2 linked regions of the Homo sapiens genome follow. The protein of the gene in region 1 purifies or fractionates together with the protein of each later gene. This does not show direct contact. Each region holds a gene or a part of one and is shown in the gene's direction. Other genes may lie near its edges.

Region 1 (3,750 bases):
CTTCTACTTACACATGGCAGGCTCCTCTTGTCTGCCATAGGTCATGGCTCCAATCTCACCCCTCCGGGAGGCCTCCATCATCCCCTCACGGTGCCCAGATCTTGCCTTTTGTAGCACTTCAGAATTACTGTATTTCACCAACTCTCAACCCCATACCTTTTCATGCTCTAGCATATCTGAAATCACGCACCTAACGAGGAAAGAGACATCTGGGTCAGTGAAATTCGGTTCATGCCCATGTGTTGTTGGCCTGTCTACTCCTCCCCCTCATTCATTCATTTATTCATTCAACACTCATTTATTGGGCACCTGCTGTGTGCCAGGGTCTGTGCCGAGCGCCAGGAACAAAGTCCCTGGCCTCATGGAGCCCACAGTCTAATGGGAAGTGGAGAATAGTGGTAGTCAGGCAGGTGCACGGGCCCCCGAAGTCAGGCAGGAGAGAGCCCCTGGGGCAGTGGCGCAGGAGGGAGGGCTATAGGTAGCTGGGGTACGGTGACATCAGGCAAAATACTGGTGGCGCTGAGGTCTGAGGATGAAGGGTGTCGCCGGCCATGAGACTGTAGGAGCAGAGGCCTTGAGCTGGGACTGAGCTGGGGGTGTTTGCAGGATCAGACAGGAGGCGGGCGTGCTGGGCTGGGGAGCAGAGCCCGGAGTAGGAGGGGAAGAGGGGGGTGGGGCAGCATTTTTCTGTGTGGCATCTTTCCTCCTGGAGGGTGGGGTGCCCCGTAAGCACAAAGATTGCTTCTGGGAGTGCATGACAGGCAGGCCTCACCTACTCAGGGGGCTTCCCAAGCAGGCGACCCTTGGACTGAGCCCCAGGAAGATATGAATGAGAACACGAAGTTCTCAGGTAGAGGAAATTTGGACACAGGGTGGGGCAGCCTGCCTCTTGAAGGAGGGAGCTCCCCGTTGCTGGAGGCAAGCAAGCAGTGATCTTGCAGGATGCCGCAGGGACAGCCTGCCAGTGGGAGCCAGCGTCCCAAGACAGCTCACATCCCTACATGCTGCCCCGCAGGTGTAAGACGTGCGGAGAATACATCTACAAGGGGAAGAAATTCAATGCTCGGAAGGAGACGGTGCAGAACGAGGTCTACCTGGGCCTGCCCATCTTCCGCTTTTACATCAAGTGCACGCGCTGCCTGGCAGAGATCACCTTCAAGGTAGGTGAGACGGCCGGCCAGGCCGGTCCCTCTCCCCCAGCACACCTCAGATCAGGGCGGGCCCTGGGGTTCCTTAACTCCAATCCTCTCCATCCAGGGAATCTCATTTCAGTTTATCCCCAAGAAACAGACAACAGTTTGGGGGAGATGTTCATGGCAGCATTCTAAATAAAGGCAAAAAGACAGAAGCAACCTAGATAGATAATAATAAGGGATGAGAAGAACAAATTAGCATGCAGGCTGGGCATGGCTCACACCTGTACTCCCAGCACTTTGGGCGGCCAAGGCGGGCAGATCACCTGAGGTCAGAAGTTCAAGACCACCCTAGCCAACATGGCGAAATGCCATGTCTACTAAAAATACAAAAATTACTGGGCATGGTGGCGGACTATAATCCCAGTTACTCGAGAGGCTAAGGCAGGAGAATCACTTGAAGCTGGGAGGCAGAGGTTGCAGTGAGCGAAGATTGCACCGCTATACTCCAGTCTGGGTGACAGAGCAAGACTCCAACTAAAAAAAAAAAAAAAAAAAGCCAGGCACAGTGGCTCATGCCTGTAATTCCAGCAGGTTGGGAGGCCAAGGCAGGAAAGAGAGCCCCTGAGGTCAGGAGTTTGAGACCAGCCTGGCCAACATGGTGAAACCCCGTCTCTACTAAAAATACAAAAGTGAGCCAGGCGTGGTGGCTCATGCCTGTAATCTCAGGTACTTGGGAGACCAAAGCAGGAGAATCGCTTGAACCCGAGAGGGAGAGGTTGCAGTGAGCCAACATTGCGCCATTGCACTCCAGCCTGAGCAACGAAATGAAACTCTGTCTCAAAAAGAAAAAAAAAAGTAGCGTGCAATGGAATATTACACAGCCAATAAAAATTGCAATTTGACTTTTATTTGTTACCTTGAGAATTTAAGGAAAGACTGAAGATAACTTAAAATTTTCTCTTCCTATGCTTAAGTACTCTTTGAATACTTTTTTGCCATAAGCTTTTTTTCTTTGATTAAAAAAACATTTTGGGCTGGGCGCAGTGGCTCACAGCTATAATCAGCACTTTGGGAGGCCAAGGCAAGTGGATCAGTTGAGGTCAGGAGTTCGAGACCAGCCTGGACAACATGATGAAACCCCAACTCTACTAAAAAAAAATACAAAAATAGGCCGGGCGCAGTGGCTCACGCCTCTAATCCCAGTACTTTGGGAGGCTGAGGCAGGCGGATCATGAGGTCAGGAGATCGAGACCATCCTGGCTAACACAGTGAAACCCCGTCTCTACTAAAAAAAAAGCAGAAAAAAATTAGCCAGGCGTGGTGGCGGGTGCCTGTAGTCCCAGCTACTCGGGAGGCTGAGACAAGAGAATGGCGTGAACCCAGGAGGCGGAGCTTGCAGTGAGCTGAGATCGCGCCACTGCACTCCAGCCTGGGCGACAGAGCGAGACTCCGTCTCAAAAATAAATAAATAAATTAATAATAATAATAATATTTTGGCTGGGTGCAGTGGCTCACGCCTGTAATCCCAACACTTTGAGAGGTCAAGGGAGAAGGATCGCTTAAATCCAGGAATTCAAGACCAGCTTGGGCAACATAGTGAGATCCCGTCAGTACAAAAAAATATAAAAATTAGCTGGGCATGATGGCATGCGCCTATAGTCCTAGCTACTTGGGAGGCTGAGGCAGGAGAATCAATTGAGTCTGGGAGGCCAAGGCTGCAGTGAGCCATGATTTCACTGCTATACTCCAGCCTGAGTGACAGAGTGAGACCCTGTCTGCAAAAAAACAAACAAAAACTTTTTTTGAAATACCTGAAGATTTACAGAAAAGTTCCAAAGATAGTACAGATAATTCTCACCTACCCCCTCACCAACTTCCCCGAATATTAGCATCTTATATAACCAGGGTACATCTGTCACAGTAAGATACTAAGGGTGGGGCCAGGCATGGTGGCTTACTCCCAGCGCTTTGAGAAGGCAAGGCAGGAGGATTGCTGGGGACCAGAAGTTCAAGACTAGCCTGGGCAACATAGTGAGACCCTGTCCGTGTCTACACACACACACACACACACACACACACACACACACACAAATTTTAATTAAAAAAAGAAACTAAAGGTGGAATGTTACCATTAACATTGTAGGCTGTGGCTGGGTGCAGTGGCTCATGCCTGTAATCCCGGCACTTTGGAGGCCAAAGCAGGAGGATCGGTTGAGTCCAAGAGTTAGAGACCAGCCTGGGCAACATGGCGAAACCCTGTCTCTACCAAAAAGAAATTTAAAAATTAGCCAGGTGTGATGGTGCATACCTGTAGTCCCAGCTACTCGGCAGGCTAAGGTGAGAGGATTGCTTGAACCCGGGAGGCTGAGGTTGCAGTGAGCCATGATCCTGCCGCTGCACTCCGGCCTGGGCAACAGCACGAGACCCTGTCCCCAAAAAAATAAAAAACATAGTGTTACTATTAGCATTTAGACCAAAGGTAGATTTCAGTTTTTCTGCTAATGTCACTTTTCTGTTCCAGTGTGTAATTTAAGATACCAGGGTGTATTTAGCCTCTCTATTCAATAAACAAAAACAGGGGCATGCTGTATACATATTTGTACATGTGATTTAT
Region 2 (3,750 bases), on another chromosome or scaffold:
CATGGTCCTCGTCCTCAGTAAGTTCCCTGTGTAATAGTGGCGGCAGGTAAACTACAGGCAACTAAACTACAGGTCACTTTTCTCACAAAAGTGAGAATACAGTTCCTAGACTACAAGGGGGAATGTTTAAGTTGGATAGATAATTTAGAGCTAGCCCTTTAAGGGATAAAGATAATTTAAAGGATGGATGGAGAATTCTAGGCCGAGGGACTAACAGATATTGAGTCCCTACATTAATTACTATAAAAATAAATCAAAGAAGATTCTTACATGAACCTATGCAGGTAAATTCAGATTTTTTTCCCCCTGGTGGATTTGCTCTGAGTTGAGGTAATGAGAGCTAACATTGATTCAGTGCCTGCTATGTTTTGCACTGTTAGGTACTTTACATGTTATCTCATGTAATACCTCTTTAAACCTCATTTTACAACTAAAATTAAATGACAGCTAGGAGCTAGGAAATGGCAAAGTTACGATTCCAAGTCTGGACTGGTTGTCCACAAAAGCCCCTGCTCTTGCCATAATGATGCCACTTCTTTCAAAGAATTCAGAATTTTCTTCACAGCTTTAAAAATGCATAGATTCTGAAGCCTCTCACTTCCTTCCAATTAGTTGCCTACCTAGAAAGTTATTTCCTCCACTTGAGCTCATCACCCCTTCTTAGCGCTCCTTTGGATTACTGTAATTTCTTTTTCTTTGACCTCACCTTTCGTCTGATGGATTAGTGTAATCTTTCCCAAATTTGTTAATCTGAAGAATTCAGGAGCTTCTCAAAATGCAGGTTCCCAAGCCATGCTCCAGGACATCGATTCAGAATTGGATCAAGGCCTAGAATCTGTGTTTTTAACAAGCATTTGACTCAAGGGTATCAAATTGGAGGAAGCACTGAGTTGGTGGACTACCTTAATTGATCTACCCATTTTCAGTCTCTTCTGCCAACCCATTCGCTCCACCCCACCCCCAGTCCGTTTTTCCGTTTTGCCCTCAAGGTCCCTGAAGACTTCCATATCATTTCGCATTGTTTTATTTGGGGCACTGTGCCGCACTACCTGGGCCCACAGCAGGCGCGCAATATTTACTGACAAATACAACCCACGAGGTAGTTCCTATTATTACCCTTCAATTTGAAATTGAGAATAAAACAGAAGTCGACAAGTTGAGGTAGCTTGTGACATCAGTATTTCGTATTTAATCCAGAAAGCACTGCTTCAACGCCCAGTGCGTGCAAGGTTCCACTCTCGGGCCAGCGGTCCTCTCCCAAAGCCCGTTCTTCCTAAGTGTGCGGCCGCCATCCAGGACACGCCACGCTCGTAAAAGGTCACCTGAAGCATCTACCCTCCACGCTCAAGAGGTAGGCGGAGGAGCGCGCCCTTTTCTCCAAAATGGCTGAGCAGGGTCACGTGGGCTCGGGGGCGGGGCCGGTGCGCTCGCCGGAGCCTGGAAGTGGGTCACGTGGCTCAGACGGGGGCGGTAGCTGTGGGGGCGTGGCCGTCACACGGCGCGATCCGTCTGGGCAGCGGCTCTTCGGGGGCCACGCCCTCCGGGCCCTGGGGGCCTAGCGCGCGACGGTGGGGTGGAGCTAGCCTCGTGACCTTTTACCCCAACATGGCTGCGCCCGTGGGACCGGTGAAGTTCTGGCGACCCGGTAAGGCCCTTGGTGGAACGCTGGGCAGATGCGGCGGCCTGACTTCGGTCTTGGCGCCGCGGCCGGCGCCCTGGGGCCAGCAGACCTGCTCGCAGGCCTGACCTCGGCGAGCTGGGCGCTGCCGCCTCTGTGCGGGGGGAGCTCTGGCTCAGGCTCCCCAGTGGTCCCGAGGGATTTGGGGGTGCTCCCCTAGCGTGAGCAGAAACTCTTTGTGACCTTGTTAAAGTGGTCCAGCCTCCTCAGGCCTCGTCTTCCTCGTTACTGATGCTTGTCCTGCCCACCCCGCGAGATGGGGAATCCTAAAGCTCCCTCTCGTGTCTCGTTAGCGCCCTGGGGTTGCGCTGTGGCCCGACAGACAATGCTGCTCGCTGCTGGAGGCTTGCAAGCCCAAGTTATGGAGTCAGACTGTCCGGGTTCGAATTTTCGTCTCTGCCTTGTAGTAGGGTGACCTTGGGCGAGTCACTTAATGCCTCTGAGCCATGACTTCTTTACCTGTAAAGTGGGCAGAACAATAGCTTCTATGCTGTGGGCTTAAATGACAAGCAGAACGCGTTGTCAGACTTAGAATAAATGCTCAAAAAAAGGGAAAGTGTGTTATTTTCTTTTAGGATAATTGTTGTCCACTCCGAATGTCTACTAGAAAAGGGAACAGTCCTTCATATTGGCTGCCAGCCACTTCCTCTCTTACAGACTAACACGAATCACAATCACAAAATGCTTTACTTGTTTTGTCTTGATATTTACTCATTAATCAGGTTTTTACTGAATGTGCATATGCCAGACCGTACTAGATGCATTACTTCCTCTCTGCAAACAGTTTCTTGTAAAAAACAAAAGTTTTTAAATTACAGCTACCAGCTTGATTTTTTTCTACCACCTGCACCCCTGCAGGTCTGGATGTGCAAAGTATATTGCAGCAAAAATGAAATGACACCAAGAATGTAATATAAGCAAAGCTTTTAATTTTTCAGTGGTTCTCTGAAATTCTGACCATGCATATAAGTGATGTGAGAGATAAACCCAAGCAAGAGATATGTTTAATGCTTTTTAAAAATTTGTAGTCTGTCACTTGACAGTTTTATGGTTCAGCATTTCAAGTCATCAGCCAATTATCCATCCTGAGTTTTATTTGCATCCAAAACTAGGAACTTACTAAGTAATGAATACTTTTAATTTATTCACGCTTTTAGTAACAGGTGAAAGTGTTAGGTATAATAAAGAGCTGAATTAATTGTTTGAAATCAGACCAGGGTACTATTTTGGTTAAAGAACGTGGAATTACTCTTAAGAGTTCTATTTCATTATTTAGTTCATCCATTGAGGGTACACTTATTGAAAACCTAATCCTGTGTTCAGGAGACAAATACAGATGCTCAGGGCTCTGCTCTCAAGTTACTGTCTCTCTCTTAATTGAATATAAAGTTAGATGTCCTCTAGAAGAGATTTTACAATGAGACAGAGTAAGGTGGTGGTAAAGAAGATGAGCTCTAGAGTCAGACTGCAGTGCCCATCATGTCTACCACTTACTAAGTTGATGACTTGATAGTCACTTAAATTCTCAAAGTCTCAGTTACTCCATCTGTAAATTGGGTATAATACCTACCCTACCCAAAGTAGTGTTGTGAGGTTTAAATGAGAATAACACACAACAGGATCTTGGCACTAGATAGGTTACTATTATAATTATATGGAAGTATGGAAGAGGGAGGGAAAGTTGAATGTATGGATAAGAAATACTTCATTAAGGTGGTATTTTTGGAGTGAACATTAAAGGATGAATAAGGTTTTGTTTCATAGAGAAATGGAACTCGAAGCAAAGGGTGCAGCATGAACAAAGGCAGAATGGGATTTGTGCCTTTAGAATGTCCAGAAAGCCAAAATAACAGAGCAGTGTGATAGTGTTAAGTGCTAGGGTATATTTTGGGGTATGACAGGAGATGAAGCTAGAAAAGTAGGTAAGGGCCTCATTGTGAAAGGTCTTCATGACAAGTTAAAAAGTTTAGACTTCACTGTTTTTTTGTTTTCTTTCTTTTTTTTTTTTGAGATGGAGTCTGGCTCAGCCGCCCAGGCTGGAGTGCAGTGGCGCAATCTCGGCTCACTGGAAC

The links.
Region 2: the proteins of YJU2 (region 1) and DHX35 purify together in Homo sapiens (affinity purification with mass spectrometry; 3 studies listed by BioGRID and IntAct, with this or other methods). This does not show direct contact.

What each region holds. Positions count from the first base shown.
Region 1 is NC_000019.10:4,250,012-4,253,761, forward strand, and holds part of YJU2 (splicing factor YJU2), read left to right. Parts: intron 1-1,015; coding exon 1,016-1,160; intron 1,161-3,750.
Region 2 is NC_000020.11:38,960,763-38,964,512, forward strand, and holds the start of DHX35 (probable ATP-dependent RNA helicase DHX35), read left to right. Parts: upstream 1-1,581; 5' UTR 1,582-1,605; coding exon 1,606-1,645; intron 1,646-3,750. UniProt on the Homo sapiens protein: May be involved in pre-mRNA splicing.